Linked DNA regions of Homo sapiens: regions 1 and 3 are each linked to region 2. The links come from fine-mapping of genetic effects on gene expression. A gene starts in region 2. Each other region holds a variant in brackets. All regions are shown on one strand. Distances are between the middles of the regions.

Region 1 (5,682 bases), 160 kb after region 2:
TATAAATCAGGACTTTTAACATCTTCCCAGACCATGCATTTACCCCTTCCTGACTTATAGGCCATTGTTTTCATAGATTTAATTCTCTACATTTTTTTCACCATATATTTTTTGGTCCAATAAGACGTTGTTTTGTAAAGTTCATGTTCATTTATGTTTTCCCATATACTTGCATCTTCATCGCTCTTCATTGCTTCCTGAATCTCCACCTTCCTGTCGGGGATCCTTCTCTTTTCTGCCAGGATAAAGAAACCTAGTGTTTTCCTTAAGGAGATTGATTCTTTCTGGAGTGTTTTCCTTCTGGAGATGGATTCTTTCAGTGTTTGTTTTTGTTTTCTTCTTATCTGAAAATGCCTTTTTAAATCTTAATTCCTTGCATTTTGTGTATAGAAGTGGACTCTTTATAGATGCCATTACATTGTGTTCTGATTTCCATTGCTTCTGTTGAAACATCAGCTGTTCTAACTTCTGCACTTCAGAGTCAGCCTGACTCCTCCTCGGACTCCACACAGCATTTTATCTGTGTCTGGTGTTTCAGCAGTCTTAAAGATGTGCCCAGATGTGGTTATTTGAAATTTTACTCAGCTTACAGTCCATAGGGATTCTTGGATTCATGGCTTGATGTCTGTCACTTATTTTGGAAAATTCTCAGCCATTCTTTTCAAACATTGCTTCCAGCATTCCCTCTGTCTCATCTTTTGGGACTGTAATTACATGGAAACTTCCCTGTGAATGAATGTGCAGCATCTCTCGCCTTCTCCTCTGTGCTTGCTGTCCTTTTGTCTCTGTCTGTTTTTCTCTGAATCTTTCTGTCTGACCTCTCTTCTTTATTCAGCTGTACCTAATATGTTGTTAAACATATTCATTGAGTTTGTTTCCAGTTATTGAATACTTTGACTCAAGAGCTTCCGTTTGTTTCTTTCCTGGAGTTTTTACTTCTCCATTGAGATAGTCAACCTTGCCTTCTACCTCCGTGAGCCCGCGAGTATATTAGTGCTAACGTTTGTGTTTAGCGACGCCATCATCTGGACCTCTTGTGGATCTGCAGCTATTGAAGTTACCTCCTGTTGTGCATGTTGCCTCTCCTCCACATGTGCCTGGTTATATTTTATTTGGTTATGAATAAAGTATCTGCAGAATACTTTATGACAATAATTTTTGGCTTATGATGATATTATCTTTCTCCAGAGAGGATTTATATTTGCTTCTGCCAAGGAACTCTGAGAACTAGCAATTAAGGTTACTTCGGTCCAATTTCTAATTATTTAGAGCTGAGCCACGTCCTGCAGGGGCCTCTCCATGTAGAACTCGCCCATGCTTCTAGCTTACAGCCATGCGTAGTCCCACCACAAAGTGAGATCTCCACTGTCACCCCTTGGGGCACTCTTGCATCCAGTTGCTCTCACCCCAGCCCCTTGAAGTTATTAAAAGTATTATTCACCTTTTTTTTTTTTTTTTTTGAGACAGAGTCTTGCTGTGTTCGCCCAGGCTGGAGTGCAGTGGCGCGATCTCGGCTTACTGCAACCTCCGCCTCCCAGGTTCAAGCAATTCTCCTGCCTCAGCCTCCTGAGTAGCTGGGATTACAGGCGCCCGCCACCATGCCCAGCTAATTTTTGTATTTTTAGTAGAGACGGGGTTTCACCATGTTGGTTAGGCTGGTCTCGAACCCCTGACCTCATGATCCACCTGCCTCGGCCTCCCAAAGTGCTGGGATTACAGGCATGAGCCACCACGCCCAGCCTATTCAGCCTTTCAACCATACTTCTGTTTCATCAGGAATGGGCACCCTGGCTCCCCAGGCAAGGCAGCCCTGCACACTCGGCTTACCTGCCTGTGCCCGTTCCCTCTGTGTCCTAACCTGGCTGTTCTTCGCATTTTAGTAGCCGTCTCGTGTCTTGAAGTGCATGTGTTTTATATTTTGTCTAGTTTTTCTAACTGTTCTCCACTAGTGAATTTTTTGAATTATAGACTGCCATTACCAAAAGCAGAAGTCACTTATCGTTATATTTTTAAGACCTCTGTTGCTGTGTATATTTTCAGTCCTTTGATTCTCTCTGTAGTCCATGATGTGCATCTCCCACATTTTATCAATTATTCCAGTGATAAATACCTGGATTGCCTTCAACTGTCTACTGGCACAATCAGTATCACAAAAAATCTAGTGTTGTAAATGTCCCATTGTAAACTGTGTCAGAATTTTGGTGGATGCCTATCCAGGAAGAGACTGCTGGGCCTTAGAGAATACCTGCATTTGTTTTAATTAAATGCTACCCAGTGACTTTTTCAGAGTGTGCGCACCAGTATACTCTCCACCAACAGCATGAGACGTCCTGCATCCCCCATACCACCACCAAAACCCAGAATCTTCCAACTTTGTAATTTTCTTCAAGTCTATTGGATGTAAAGTGACAAGTCATCATTTTAATTTGCATTTCTCCAATTACAATCTTTCTGTTTGGGTTTCTGTCTTTTTCTTGTTGATTTGCAAGAGCTCCTTTTATATTTTGAATATATTATTCTTTGTTGGATATAAATATTGCAAATATATTCTCACAGTCTGTCAGCTAACTGCCATCTTATCTTTTACTGCATAAAAATCGAGCAATCACTATTGCTGGTTTATGGCTTCTGCCTTGTGCTATTACTAAAGAAGTCACTGCCCTTATTTATCTTATATTATGAACTTTTAATTTTATACATTTCTATTCATGTACAAGGCTTTAGGTCAAGTGGAGCCCCCTTTTGTGTGTGTTGATGGGGATCCAGCTTCCCTTTCCCCACAAGGCTTTTATTGTTCAGCTCGTTTTGCTATTATGAATACAACCTTCTAGCAGGTTGTTATTGCTGGTGTAATTTAAAAAATACTTTAAAGCATCTATCTGAACTCTCTTACTAGTTCTCATAGTTTGATGCTTTTGTTATGTATTTTTTTTCTTGGTAGATGATTAGGTCATTTCTAAATTGTGACTTCTTTTTCTCCTATAATCCAGTGCCTTTTGTTTCTTGTGCTTCACTTACAGCATAAGCAAGATCTCTGGCTTCCTGGTAAACAGCAGCAGGCATCACGTGCATTCTTCTCTGGTTTTCTGTCTTGAAGCAAACCCATCTTAACTTTCTCCATTACATAGAGTGTGCGCCGCGGATTTTGGCAATAACCTTTGTGAAGTTAAGATAGTTTCTATGTTGAGCAGTTCTAATCCTAATTCTGCAAGGTTGAAGCTGGTAATGAGTGCATAGACTGTATTTTCTGCCTTCGTATATGGCCTGTTCTGCTTTAATGCTTGTTTTGAAAACTCAAATTTGTTCCAAAATGATTGATGTGTTAGGGAACCGTTTGAGTATAATGCAAATTTCATGTTAGCTTATGTGCAATTTCATCCACTAGAAACACCAGGTGAATGCAGAATACTGCCCCC[A/C]CTTAATGCAGAATATTGCCCCCCATGTGCCCCAAGAGTGGAGCTGCATAGGAACACACAGACGCACACCTCCCCCAGGAGCAGAGCTTCGTAGGAACACACAGACGCACACCTGGGATAGTGTCCAGCTATACATGGATTCACTCTGTGTGTCATGAGCCACACCACCACTTCTGGAGTCACAGCTTGCCTCTGACCTCAGAGACCCCTTCTTTCACCACTTCCCACTAACTCATAAGCTCTTGATGCCCACTTCTACATGCAAATCACAAGTCTTTTTCACATAGTGCCATACTTATTGTAGTATTTATATATTTCCTAACCTTTTAGCATGTGTAAAATTGTGCTATCATTGTTAACATGAATGGACTTTATTTTTTCAAGCAGTTTTAGGTTTATAGAAAAATGAAGCAGAGAGTACAGAGTGTTCCTATAAACCCCTCACCCTGTCACCAGTTATTAACATCTTGGTTAGTCTGGTGTGTTGGTTAGGGTTCACTTTGTGTGTTTATATCCTATGAGATTTGACAAATGTGTAATGACAGGTGTCTACCATCCAGTACCATACAGAGAAATTTCAGTGCCCTAATGATCCCCTGCACTCCACCTATTCTCCCCGCACCTTTGGCCACTGATAATTTTTTCCCTTCTTCGTGGTTTTGCCTCTTCTGTAATGTCATGTAGTTGAAATCCCACAGTGCACAGCGTTTTCAGATGGGCTTCTTTCACTTACCAGTATGCATTTGGGTTTCCTCTGTGTCTTTTATGGCTTCATAGCTCCATAGCTCCTTTTTCTCTCTTGCTGAATAATTTGTCGTTGTGTATATGTATCACAGTTTGTTTATCCATTCACCTACTGTAGGACATCTTGGTTGCTTTCAAGTTTGTCAGTAATGAATAAAGCTGCTATAAACATTTGTGTACACGTTTTGTGTGAACATGTTTTCGACTCGTTTGGGTAAATACCAAGGAGTGTGATTGCTGGATCATATGGTAAGACTAGATTTAGTTTCATAAGAAACTGACAAACTGTGTTCCAAAGTGGCTGCACCATTTTGCATTCCCGCAAGCCATGGATGAGAGCTCCTGTTGTTCCACATCCTCATCAGCAATTGGGGTTGTCTGTGTTTTGGATGTAACCATTCTAATAGATGTGTAGTGGTGGCTCTTTATTATTTTAACTTCCAATTCCCTAATGACATACCTGTATATCTTCTTTGGTGAGATGTTTGTTCAGACCTTTGGCTCATTTTTTAATTGAGTTGTTTTCTTATAATTGAGGGTTTTTTTGTTTTTTCTTTTTTTTTTTTTTTTGAGACGGAGTCTCGCTCTGTTGCCCTGGCTGGAGTGCAGTGGCGCGATCTTGGCTCACTGCAATTCTCCTGGGTTCACGCCCATTCTCCTGACTCAGCCTTCCAACTAGCTGGGACTACAGGCGCCCGCCACCACGCCTGGCTAATTTTTTTTGTATTTTTAGTAGAGACGGGGTTTTACCATGTTAGCCAGGATGGTCTCGATCTCCTGACCTTGTGATCCGCCCGCCTTGGCCTCCCAAAGTGCTGGGATTACAGGCATGAGCCACTGTGCCCGGCCATAATCGAGTTTTAAGAGTCGTGTATTTTTGATACCAGGTCTTTATCATACATGTTTTGTAAATCTTCTCTTTCAGTCTGTGGCTTTTCTTTTCATTCTCTTAATGTGCTAACATTTTGAATAAACTCCTATCTTTTTGTAGATGTGTTACTAACCAAGTTTTTGAGTGTTGTTTCCCTAACCCATTTTTCCTAAATCTTGCATTTTTTGTTGCATGATTTTACATGGCATGGTGCTTTTTTGTTTTGTTTTGTTTTGTTTTTTGAGATGGAGTTTTGCTCTTGTCGCCCAGGCTGGAGTGCAGTGGCACGATCTTGGCTCACTGCAACCTCTGCCTTTTGGGTTCAAGCGATTCCCCTGCCTCAGCCTCCTGAGTAGCTGGGACCACAGGTGCACACCACCACACCTACCACACCTGGCTAATGTTTGTATTTTTAGTAGAGGCAGGGTTTCACCATGTTGGCCAGGCTGGTCTTGAACTCTTGACCTCAGGTGATCCACCTGCCTCGGCCTCCCAAAATGGGATTACAGGCGTAAGCCACCACTCCCAGCCAGCATAGTGCTTTTTAAGATCATATTTATTCTGTTACAGCAGAACTACCTGTATTTAGGAATTTCCATAATAAAATGTTTTCAGTGTTTTAAATAAAAAGATAAAAAAGAAGAAAGTTCT
Region 2 (5,682 bases):
GGTCAGCCCAGCTTTCTGACCTGAGGAGCTCTTTTAAGATTCTGTTTCCGCCGGGTGTGGTGGCTCATGCCTGTAATCCCAGCACTTTGGGAGGCCGAGGCAGGCGGATCACGAGGTCAGGAGATTGAGACCATCCTGGCTAACACGGTGAAACCCCGTCTCTACTAAAAATTCAAAAAAAAAAATCAGCTGGAGGTGGTGGCGGGCGCCTGTAGTCCCAGCTACTCTGGAGGCTGAGGCAGGAGAATGGCAGGAACCTGGGAGGTGGAGCTTGCAGTGAACCAAGATCATGCCACTGCACTCCAGCCTGGGTGACAGAGGGAGACTCCGTCTCAAAAAAAAAAAAAAAAAAGATTCTGTTTCCAACGTGTCCCTGATTTCTGTCCCCCACCTATGACAGCTGTACAAGCAGGCCGGCTTCCCACCAGGCTAGCTGAAGGCTCATGCCCTCCTCACAACGGCTCCCCTGACTCACCAGCAGTCAGACAGCAACACGTGGGTGGTCCTGGACTTTACATCTTTGGAGCTGGTCAAGGACCAGGGACGCAGGGATCGTCGGCAGAGATTACAGGAGGCCAGAGTCTAGGAGCAAAGCTGCAGGGAGAGGCACCAGCCCCAGCCTCCCTAGTGGGCAGTCTGTCTGGTGAGCTCTGGCTGCTGCCGCTGCCGTAGCCGGCTGGCTGCCTGTTTCCCAGGTCAGCACACCTCCCCCTGCCTATGCCTTACTCCATATTCTTGCAAAAATCCCTTTCCTGCTAGAGTAGCCAGGGGAAGTTTCTGTCTTTTGTGACTCAGGCCCCAGCTGGTAGTGTAGGTCTGTCTATATGTAAGCCTGTGGTCTCTGGGCCAGAGAAGTAAAGCAAGTGGCCCAGGCTGCCCAGCGAGGAAAGCACAAGCCCCTGTAAGTTCCATCGGTCCACCCCGTGCCCACGCTCTCTCTGCCACTTGGAATCTGCTGCGATGTTTTCTGTCCTACCACTCACTTCACTCCCCTATGCTGCTGAACCTGTTTAATTGCCATATGTGACAGACAGGAAGTCGGGGTCATATTTAAACATGGGACGCTCCACTGACTAGAAACTCTATTGTACAAATCCTTCAGCGACTCAAACAGGCCTGCCTTTCTTATTTTTAATAACGGCAAAAGAGAGAGCACACCACAGTGCAGTCAAGTCCTCCTAAAACCATGTTCACCAGAAGGAAAAGACAGACATAAACTACCTTTGATTTATTTCCCCTCGAGCATTGGATGTCACTTCTCTAGGGAGGCTGCGCTGTGGCAGGGATCTGGGCGTGCGGGGACACAGCAGGTGCCTGATGAATGGAGCCATCATGACGGTTATGCTCCAACCTGGGGTCTGATCCTCTGCTAGACGGCGAGCCTGGCCCAGGCCCCATAGCCTGAACCAGGGGTTCTCTAAGTGTGGTCCCAGGGCCAGCAGCTTCAGGGTCACTTGGAAACATGTTAAAATGCAAATTCCCAGGCCCCACCCCAGATCCTGTGAGAGGGGGGCAGCGGTGAGGGGCAGCAGCCTAAGCTCTATGGTGTCCTCCACGTGGTTCTGACTCAGGTCTGAGAACCCAGGTCCAGGGCTGTCCACTGGTCAGAGGAGTCCAGACAACAATGGAACCTGTGGCCAGGGGTTGTGTATTTTCACTGGACCTCCCCCCTCGCCAGGGGATTAGCACTTTAAGCCTTCAGAGAAGAGCGAATTAACTTTTGCTAAGCACCTGTGAGGTTTAATTTCTCACGTACTCTCCATGGCAACCCCACCAGGCGGTCATTCCTCTCGAATGTTAAAGATACGTGTTTAGAGCAGATGATCATGATTACACAACTGGTGTGCAGCACAGCCAGGTGCCCAGATCCGAATCCCACACCCTCCTCCCACCACCATGGGCCTCAGGGACATGCTTCTAGCACAGTCATGGACCCTGAGTGACATAAAGGCTGTGACAGGGGACGCAGGATCTTCAGATGGCCCCACAGTGCCTCCTCTGAGTATCTATCTCCCAAGCTTCTCGCCTGGCCTGGTTGCTGTGAGGGCCTGGGGAGAGGCAGAGACAGGTTGGGTGTACGGAAAATGCACACTCTGCCAGGCACCCCTGACACGCACTGCTGACCAGGCATAGCGTTCAGTGGGGCTAGGACTTGGACGAGGGTGCAGGCTTGAGCAGGGGTGCAAAAAGCCAGTCTGGGCAGATGCTCTCCCTCTGTGGGGCGCCGATCTCAGAAATGGTGGACAGAGCAGGGCTGCAGTATGGTGCACATGGGCCTTGGGGTCTTAGCTTTCGTGGGCCTCTTCCTGCATAAAATAAAATAGTTAAAATTAGAGTTTACAACTGCATTCATATAAAGATGAATATACTCCAGGCTAGATTCATTATTATTTTATTATACTCAGTTTTTTTCTTCTGATTTAAAATAGTGCGGTCCTAGGGCTGGTTAGAGTGTTTCCTGGCAGGCCCTGTCTCCTTAAACCCCTGCAAAGAAAGCAGCGAGGACTTCCCTTTGCCCCTTAGCAGAAAGCTGCGCTCCTTAATGGTTACGGGTGTGACCATTCACTTACATCCTATCTGCAGGACATACCTGGAAAGGTAAGTGGGAGGCAAGAGGGAGCTGGAGGCCAAGACTTCGGTCCCAGATATCCTAGTCCACATTTGTCCCCACCAGGTGTGTGAGTGCCGGCGCGCTGCACAGCCTCCCTGGGCCTCCGTTTCCTCAACTGGTAAACAAGAACGCTGGGCGGACTGAACTCTGAAAGTTCTGGGAGCTTGACAATCAGAACTCTCAGCAGAGAGGCCGCCCCTGCTCTCAGGAGGGCGGAGGCACCTGAGTCTCCAGTGCGGAGGACAGGCCGAAGCGCTGCGTTGGAGATGTGCAAATGCGCAAGAAGCGTGCTGCTTTCTCTCTGAGAAAACACTCCTAGGCTTCAAGGGGGCCCAAGAGCTCGACTGGGCGGGATGATCCCGGCGGCCCCTGGGCCGGGTCTGTGGACGGCTCTGCTGTGTGCCTGTGCGTGCCCAGTCCCGCGGGTGACCAAAGCCCAGGGGCGGGCAGGGCAGGAGCCTGGACCTCACGTGCCTCCAGTGGCCAGGTTTGCGGGGGCGGAGCGTCCGGGCGAGGGCGCGGGGGCGGACCCTAGGGCGGGGCGCGGGGTGGCGTCGGTGGAGCCGGCTCGGCGGCGCGGCTCGTAGTGCTGCGGCCGGGCTCCGGGCGTCCCGGCGGCCACCATGCTCAGCGTCGTGCACTTCCTCCGGAGCTTCTTCAAGGTGAGAGCCGGCGTCCGGGACTTGCGGTCGGGCTCCCGGCGCCCTGCGCGGGTGGGGAGGAGCACAGCCCGCGCTGGCTGCTGCGCCCCGGGCCGTCCCCTGGGCACCCGGTGGGTGGGGACACCCTCGTGGCTCCCCGCCGCTCCCAACTTTCCGACGTGCAGACCGGAGGCGGCGTCCTGCAAAGTGGGGCCGTCTCGAGCGCGGGGAAGGACGGGGCTCCGTTGGGGGCGGTAGGGACGGCGGCCCGGGGCGAGCCCCTGAGAGGGCAAGGGCGAGCGCCTGAGCCGGCCTCCCCGCACCTGGACCGTCCTGGGCGCGCGGGGCACTCGGAGCCGCTGCCTGGACCGGCCTGGGCGCGCAGGGCACTCGGAGCCTCTGCCGCTTGGCGCAGTACCAGCTGTTTTGGGAAGGAGGGCTGGTGCCGGCCCGGTGGGTACGGGAGAAGTGGTTGCTGTTGTTATTCCCCAGGCTGAGAGTACGCGAGGGCGCAGCAGCGGCAAGGGGCTGGAACTGGGGTCGGGGCTGTTGGGCTCCTGCTCGGGGTGCCCCCTCTCTGGCCCGATTTCCGGGCCCGCTCACCATCCGGGACCCACTCAGTTGGGACGCCTCCACCTCGCTGCCCCCACAGGAACCCCAAGATGGGCCGGGGGCTCCGGGGCACTGTCAGGGGTGGCCGGCCACAGGTTGCCAAGCCCGACCTCCCCAGGTGAGCCAGCGGGAGGGCGGTTGCGACGCTGGGTGGTGCTGAGCTCCGATGGGCTCCTACTCCGGGAGCAACTGCATGAAAGGAGAGGCGGGGAAGAGCCACCAGCTGTCAGCTGCAGGTCCAGGGGGAGGCAGACCTGTGTGGGGCTGTCGGGGCGGGAGGGCGGGAGGGCGCCCTACTTGGCTGTGCAGCCATCTTCTCCCGGAGTTGAAGACGGGAGGTTGAGGTCGGAGTTCTGTGGCCCTGAGAGCTCTAGTGAAAGGGGCAGGAAGCCAGGTGACCCAGGGCAGACCTGCAGGAGCCCTGCCCTCAGCCTATCCGCTGGCCTGGCATCAGCTCCCACCCCCAGCGATAACGAAGTGATCGCTGGCATCAAGAGTGGAGAGGGCCGGACAGCCGGGAAGGCAGCCTTTCAGGAACCTGTGCTGGTGAGTGTAGGAGATGGCTTGGAAGAGCTCAGACCCCCTTCAAATGCCGACTCTGTCATTGAGGAGGTGTACAATCTTGGGACAATCACATAACCACCTGGGTCTTTGTTTTGAAAAATGTGGGTGATGTTTCCATGCCCTCCACACCTTTCAGGGTTAGTGTGAAGGTCTTATTAGAAAATGTGAGTGTGGCCCGGCGCGGTGGCTCATGCCTGTAATCTCAGCACTTTGGGAGGCCGAGTGGGGGGGGCGGATCGCCTGAGGTCACGAGTTCGAGACCAGCCTGGCCAACATGTCAAAACCCCGTCTCTACTAAAAATACAAAAATCAGCCGGGCGCGGTAGTGGGCGCCTGTAATCCCAGCTACTTGGGAGTCTGAGGCAGGAGAATTGCTTGAACCCGGGAGACAGAGGTTGCAGTGAGCCAAGATAGCACCACTGCACTCCAGCATGGGTGATAGAGCGAGACTCCGTCTCAAAAAAAAGAAAAAGAAAAGAAGGAAGGAAGGAAGGAAAGGAAGGAAGGAAGGAGGGAGGGAAGGAAGGAAAGAAACGTGAGTGTGTTTATGAAGTGGTGAGCCCTGGACCTTGGTTCTGCTGCACCCACAGCAAGGGTGGCAAGGAGTTGCCCAGGTGAGGGGAAGATGGCCGGACAGAATCCAAGATGCCTGGGCAGAATCTGAGTCACCCAGCTGGCCCCAGAAGCTCCAGGAGCAGGTGGAGTGTGGCTGGAGGAGAGACCACTGGACATCTCTGGGCAGCCACCTTGCCTGCTGCTGCCTGGGAGGCTCCTGGGATTTGGCCTTTGTGAAAGTATTCCTGACACACACGGTCCTCCAGTTCCCCATCTATTCAGAGAGGCCTTTCCATACTTTCTGCCTCAGGTCCCTGTAGGTCCTGAGACACCTGAGGCCTCCCCATGCACACCACAGGAAGCATCACCTGTGCCCCTCAGAGGGTCTCCTTTCTGCTGTCCACATGGGAGGGGCTCTGACTGCCACAGCAGTCCACTTCTGGCTGTGTGAGTGTGTCTTGCCGAGCCACCGACAACGTAGTTCATACTTGTTCCTCTCAGACACTGGTCGTAAGGAATACCCCGTGAGGACACAGGTTGTGGGGTGGGCAGAGGAGCTACGTGCTTCAGTCACCGCCTGGTGCCTCCTGGTGTCCCCAGGGATTGGTCCTATGAGGTACCCCTGATGATGGGTGCTGGACTGGGCCAGAAAAGGCCACTTCATTCTGGGAACCTCAGATTGTCTGGGTCTCCCAGTCA
Region 3 (5,682 bases), 22 kb before region 2:
GAGAGAGGGCAGCCTTGTCTTGTGCTGGTTTCAAGGGGAATGCTTCCAGCTTTTGCCCATTCAGTATGCTATTGGCTGTGGGTTTGCCATAAATGGCTCTCATTATTTTGAGGTATGTTCTTTCAATACCTAGTTTATTGAGAATTTTTAACATGAAGGGATGTTGAATTTTATCAAAGGCCTTTTCTGTGTCTATTGAGATAATCATGTGGGTTTTGTCTTTAGTTCTGTTTACGTGCTGAATTACATTTATTGATTTGCATATGTTGAACCAGCCTTACATCCTGGGGATGAAGCCGATTTGATCATGGTGGATAAGCTTTTTTTTGCTTGTTTGTTTTGTTTTGTTATTATACTTTAATTTCTGGGATACATGTGCACAATGTGCAGGTTTGTTACATATGTATACATGTGCCATGTTGGTTTGCTGCACCCATCAACTCATCATTTACATTAGGTATTTCTCCTAATGCTATCCGTCCCCCAGCCCCCCAGGCCCCAACAGGCCCTGGTGTGTGATGTCCCCCGCCCTGTGTCCCAGTGTTCTCATTGTTCACTTCCCACCTATGAGTGAGAACATGCGGTGTTTGGTTTTCTGTCCTTGAGATAGTTTGCTTAGAATGATGGTTTCTAGCTTCATCCAGGTCCCTGCAAAGGACCTGAACTCATCCTTTTTTATGGCTGCATAGTATTCCATGGTGTATATGTGCCACATTTTCTTAATCCAGTCTATCACTGATAAGCTTTTTTTTTTGAACGGAGTCTTATTCTGTCACCCAGGCTGGAGTGCAATGGCGCCATCTCGGCTCACTGCAAACAAATTCTGCCTGCCAGGCTCAAGTGATTCTCCTGCCTCAGCCTCCCGAGTAGCAAGTAGCAGTGATTACAGGCATGTGCCACCACTCCCAGCTAATTTTTGTATTTTTAGTAGAGACAGGTTTCACCATGTTGGCCAGGTTGGTCTCGAACTCCTGACTTCAGGTGATCCACCTGCCTCAGCCTCCCAAAGTCCTCAGATTATAGGCATGAGCCACCACACCCAGCTGGGTAAGCTTTTTGCTGTGCCGCTGGATTTGGTTTGCCAGTATTTTATTGAGGATTTTTGCATCAGTGTTCATCAGAGAGTAATTGGCCTGAAGTTTTATTTTTTTGTTGTAGCTGTACCCAGGCTTTTCTTTTCTCTCTTTCTTTTTTTTTTTTTTTTAAGGAGACAGGGTCTCACTCTGTCACCCAGGCTGGAGTGCAGTGGTGTGAGATTACAGGCCCGGTCTTTTTTTAAATTATTTTTAGTAGACACGGGGTGTTGCTATGTCACCCAGGCTGGTCTCAAATGCCTGGGCTGAAGCGATCCTCCCACTCTGGCCTCCCAAAATGCTGGGATTGCAGGCATGAGCCACTGTGTCCCACTGCTTATTTCTTGGTAAAAGGGAAGCATTGGCCGGGCACAGTGGCTCACGCCTGTAATCCCAGCACTTCAGGAGGCCGAGGCGGGCGGATCACGAGGTCAGAAGATCGAGACCATCCTGGCTAACACCATAAAACCCCATCTCTACTAAAAATACAAAAAAAAAAAATTAGCCGGGCGTTGTGGCGGGCGCCTGTAGTCCCAGCTACTCAGGAGGCTGAGGCAGGAGAATGGCATGAACCTGGGAGGCAGAGTTTGCAGTGAGCGGAGATCGCACCGCCGCACTCCAGCCTGGGTGATAGAGCGAGACCCCAGCTCAAAAAAAAAAAAAAAAAGGGAAGCATTAACTTCTCCAAGACTGGTTCCCTGAAGGCTGATCTCCCTGGAAGGCTGGACCAGAGCTCAGTCATCTGGCCATACACCATGCTAAGACCCCCGACTCTGATCACATTAGGGGAGAGCCTGGCACCCTACGTCATGACCTTAGTGGACAAGAGGACTGCACATCAGGCTCTGCCATGTTTCGCTGCACTTGTAGCATGTTTTTGATGTTATGTTTCTAGCTCAGGATCATGCCAGGGAAGAGGTTGGGGCATCTTCAATCCTGAAGCTTGAGGGCTAGAGTCGGACATCTGCTAGAGCTGTGAGTGACACCCTGAAATGCACGGGTCAGCGAGGCTCACATGACTGTTTCTGGAGGCCAGTGTCTTTCCCAGGAGCGCTGATCCGGCAGGCCCACTGTGGGTGTGGTCAGCCAAATGTCACTCAGCAAACAAGTTTGCAGATCAGTTTGTGTATCCTTCAGTGGATCACCCTTCCCTCCACTCTTTCTCCCACAGTGAGCCTGGCTGCAGTCTCACCTTTCATACCCCAAACCCTGCAGGAATCAAAGTGCCACCTTCTGCCTGGGCCTCCAGTAAGGCTGAGATGTTAGCCCAGCTCACTAGATTCCAGTCCTGCTTCTTTGCTGATCTCAGAGACATTTTCCTAACTTTTGAGGCTGGCCATGATTTTCTGATTTTGTCCTTTTAATATTTTGTGAAGCATTTCTCTGTGTTTGGCACAGAGGTGATTGCCGAGGCTGAGCTCCCTGCACTGTGCACTCCTGAGCACATCCTGCTTTGCTGGGCCTGGCCCCTGGACAGAGGGGCTGGTCCCACCTGGCCTGCGGGGCCCAGGGCAGCCCCAGTGCTCACTCCTATGTTTGGCTCACTTGTTTTTTGTTGCTCTTTGTTTCTGGCCTCTTGGACGGTGTTCCTTATGGCCTTGCGCTTCCAGGAGTGCATTTGAAAGCATGTTTGTGAATTTAATCCAGCATTTCTTTCCTTTTTTTTTTTTTTTTTTTTGACAGAGTTTCGCTCTTGTTGCCCAGGCTGGAGTGCAATGGTGTGACCTCGGCTTATAGCAACCTCGGCCTTCCGGGTTCAAGCCATTCTCCTGCCTCAGCCTCCAGAGTAACTGGGATTACAGGCATGCGCCACCATGCCTGGCTAATTTTGTATTTTTAGTAGAGACAGTTGGTCAGGCTGGTCTCAAACTCCTGACCTCAGGTGATCCGCCG[G/T]CCTTGGCCTCCCAAAGTGCTGGGATTACAGGCGTGAGCCACCGCGCCCAGCCTAATCCAGCATTTCTATGTGCTCTGTGGTGGAAAATGTTTCCAATTAAGTAGACCTGCCATATTGCTGGAATCGGAAGTCCCGGTTTTTGTTTGTAAGCCTAGAACGTGATTCTGGGAGAGAACAGCCCTGCCTGCAGCATGCCAGTCCCTGTGCCTGCTGAGTGAATGTCTGATTTGAGGACACAGGGTATATGTCACAGTGCTTGGGGCAAGAGAGCATGTGGGAGATGTTCTGGAAAGGCCTGCAGCTCGCGGTCAGGAAACCTAGGTCCAAGCACCTCCAGTCTCTGCTGACAGCTGAGTGCCCAGGTGTTGTCCCTGTGCTGTTCTGTCACCTGCAGCAGGTCCTAGGAGGTGTCCCTCCCGGTCCGTGCTTCACAGAGAAGGGAGTGAGACCAGATGTGAAGCGGGCCTTGGAGTCAACGGCCTGGTGACTTCTGGACTGGCCCTTAGGTCTCGATGTTGCAGCCTGGAGTCTTCCTCTGTCCCTGGGTGTGTTTTGAGCAGTAGAGGAGGGGGGACACGGGAGCACCTGTTGCAGAGTTGCTCTTACGGATGATCGTCATGGTATGAACAGCACAGGAACGAACAGCACTCTGGAGTCAGGAAGCGGCACTCCCTGGGGCCGGGGAGGCAGGAGGAAGCTCCGCACCTGAGTTGGGTGGTGTCCAGCGGGCTGGGGAGCCTATGCCCAGGGCCTGGTGTGTGGAGATGGGCTGAGCCTGCTGTGTGGGAGGTGGTGAGGGCTGGGGTCTGAGGCCATGGGGATGGGGGCAGTAAACCTTGGGGGAACAGAGCTCAGCAGCCAAGCATGCTTGTGAGTGACCCCAAATGTTCTGGTCAAGTTCAGTCCCCAGAATCTCAAAGAAGGTCCCTTTGCAGAGGAGGAGAAAGATTTGGGGTCCAGACACTTAGAGCTGTGTGTCCCAAGGATGGCTCTTTTCACTGGCAGACTGAGAAGGCAGGCCTGAAGTCTTGTCCAGGCCGACGTGGGCTCAGATGCTGGGGAGGCAAGCGCTTGGATCCACCTCTGTCCAGAGGAGCTTCTAGGCTGGTGTGGGGGGATCCAAGCACCCCATAGTGTCCAGCTGCCCTGGCAGAGAGCTGGCCAGGGGCAGTGGGCTCAGGGAAAGAGACAAAAGAAAGCTTAACATATTCCTAAGAATTGGAGTCATACAGGCCAGATCCTCCAATGGCAGTAGGATAAGTATGAACTCAACAATAAAACATCAGTCAAAAAACCTGTGTAGAGATTTTTAAAGATGCTAAAAATCCAAAGATAAGGAGGAAACATTTCAAAATGGAAATTTTGAAATTTTAAGAACTGAGAACAATGCAAGGATGACCTATCAAACTATGCGAAATTCAGGTAAACCTGTTCTTACAGGTAAATACAAACCCTAAATGCATTTGCTAAAAAGAGGATAAAAGGCCAGGTGTGGTGGTGCATGTCTGTAGTCCCAGCACTTTGGGAGGTCGAGGCAGCTGGATCTCTTGAGCCCAGGAGGAGTTCCTCACCAGCCTCGGCAACATGGCGAAACCCCATCTCTGAAAAAAAAAAAAAATTAGCCAGATATGGTGGCCCACACATGTAGTCTCAACTACTCAGGAGGCTGAGGTGGGAGGATCACTTGAGTCCAGGAAGTCGAGGCTGCAGTGAGCTGTGATCACACCAAAAAAAAAAAAAAAAAAAAAGATAAAAGAAATGTGTAATCAAAAACTCATGGGAGAACGAGAGAATACTATGATTAACATTAGCAGCAACAATTTTTTTTTTTTTTGAGATGGAGTCTTGCTCTGTTGCCCAGGCTGGAGTGCAGTGGTGCTATCTCAGCTCACTGCAAGCTCCGCCTCCCAGGTTCACTCCATTCTCCTGCCTCAGCCTCTCAAGTAGCTAGGACTGCAGGCGCCCGCCACCACGCCTGGCTAATTTTTTTGTGTTTTTAGTAAAGACGGGGTTTCACTGTGTTAGCCAAGATGGTCTCAATCTCCTGACCTCGTGATCCGCCCGCCTCGGCCTCCCAAAGTGCTGGGGTTACAGGTGTGAGCCACCATGCCTGGCCTAGCAGCAACAATTTTATAAAGGTAGATGACATGGATCATTGTTTAGAAATATTAAAATTACCAAAATTGAGTCAAGAAGAAAGAGAAAACAAGCTGCAAACTGCGAGTACATATTTGCAATACAAAAAACTGGCAGTGAAGTTATCCATAATATATAATGGCTATAAATTAATCAGGAAAACAAACACTCCACTAGAACATTGTGCAAAAATGAAACTAGACTGGCTAAGAAACACAGTAAACATGATTAACCCACTAGTAACCCTGCAAATGCAAATTTAACAGAATGCCACGTAGCATCTGTCTGCAGGGCAAATATTAAAAAGCATTCCATTTGAACTGAGGTCTACAGCAATTGTGGAGCAACAGGGCCTCTCATTTGCCACTCCTGGGACTGGAATTGGTCACCATCACTTAGATGAGCAATTTGGTAACAACAGTAAATTTTAAAACATACATAAACATGATTAGTAATTTCACTAATAGATCTTTTTCCAGACTAAATCTCACATAGAAGGAAATAACAAATAAGCAATGTTTGTGGACCAAACAGTTAGAAACAGTGTAAATTTCTATCAGTGGGAGGAAAGATAAACCA

Direction of the effects. Positions count from the first base shown, and alleles are read on the strand shown. Sizes are in standard deviations (SD) of each study's normalised expression. Not every link is listed here.
For the expression in esophagus muscle of the gene that starts at base 3,195 in region 2, T is the high allele of the variant in region 3 and G is the other (small effect, 0.17 SD a copy in GTEx).

Evidence for each region. PIP is the estimated chance that this variant, and not a neighbour inherited with it, causes the effect. A credible set is the group of variants that fine-mapping cannot tell apart.
Region 1: its variant is the best candidate, but not a certain one, in a credible set for the expression of ARHGEF4 in whole blood (TOPMed, PIP 0.78).
Region 3: its variant is the best candidate, but not a certain one, in a credible set for the expression of ARHGEF4 in esophagus muscle (GTEx, PIP 0.69).

The regions. Positions count from the first base shown.
Region 1 is chr2:130,994,447-131,000,128 of GRCh38, forward strand. All of the region lies in intron 4 of ARHGEF4 (Rho guanine nucleotide exchange factor 4), which reads left to right. Among named protein-coding and RNA genes, the nearest start is that of SMIM39, 38 kb to the right of the region's middle. The variant A/C (reference allele first, on the strand shown) is at 3,417.
Region 2 is chr2:130,833,720-130,839,401 of GRCh38, forward strand. It overlaps ARHGEF4 (Rho guanine nucleotide exchange factor 4), which reads left to right and starts at 3,195. Exons shown (of 14, transcript NM_001367493.1): 1 at 3,195-3,273. The coding sequence starts at 3,235. ARHGEF4-AS1 (ARHGEF4 antisense RNA 1) reads right to left here and starts at 3,275. Exons shown (of 2, transcript NR_186036.1): 1 at 2,591-3,275.
Region 3 is chr2:130,811,790-130,817,471 of GRCh38, forward strand. No RefSeq gene overlaps it. Among named protein-coding and RNA genes, the nearest start is that of ARHGEF4, 22 kb to the right of the region's middle. RefSeq lists an enhancer at 2,547-3,046. The variant G/T (reference allele first, on the strand shown) is at 2,967.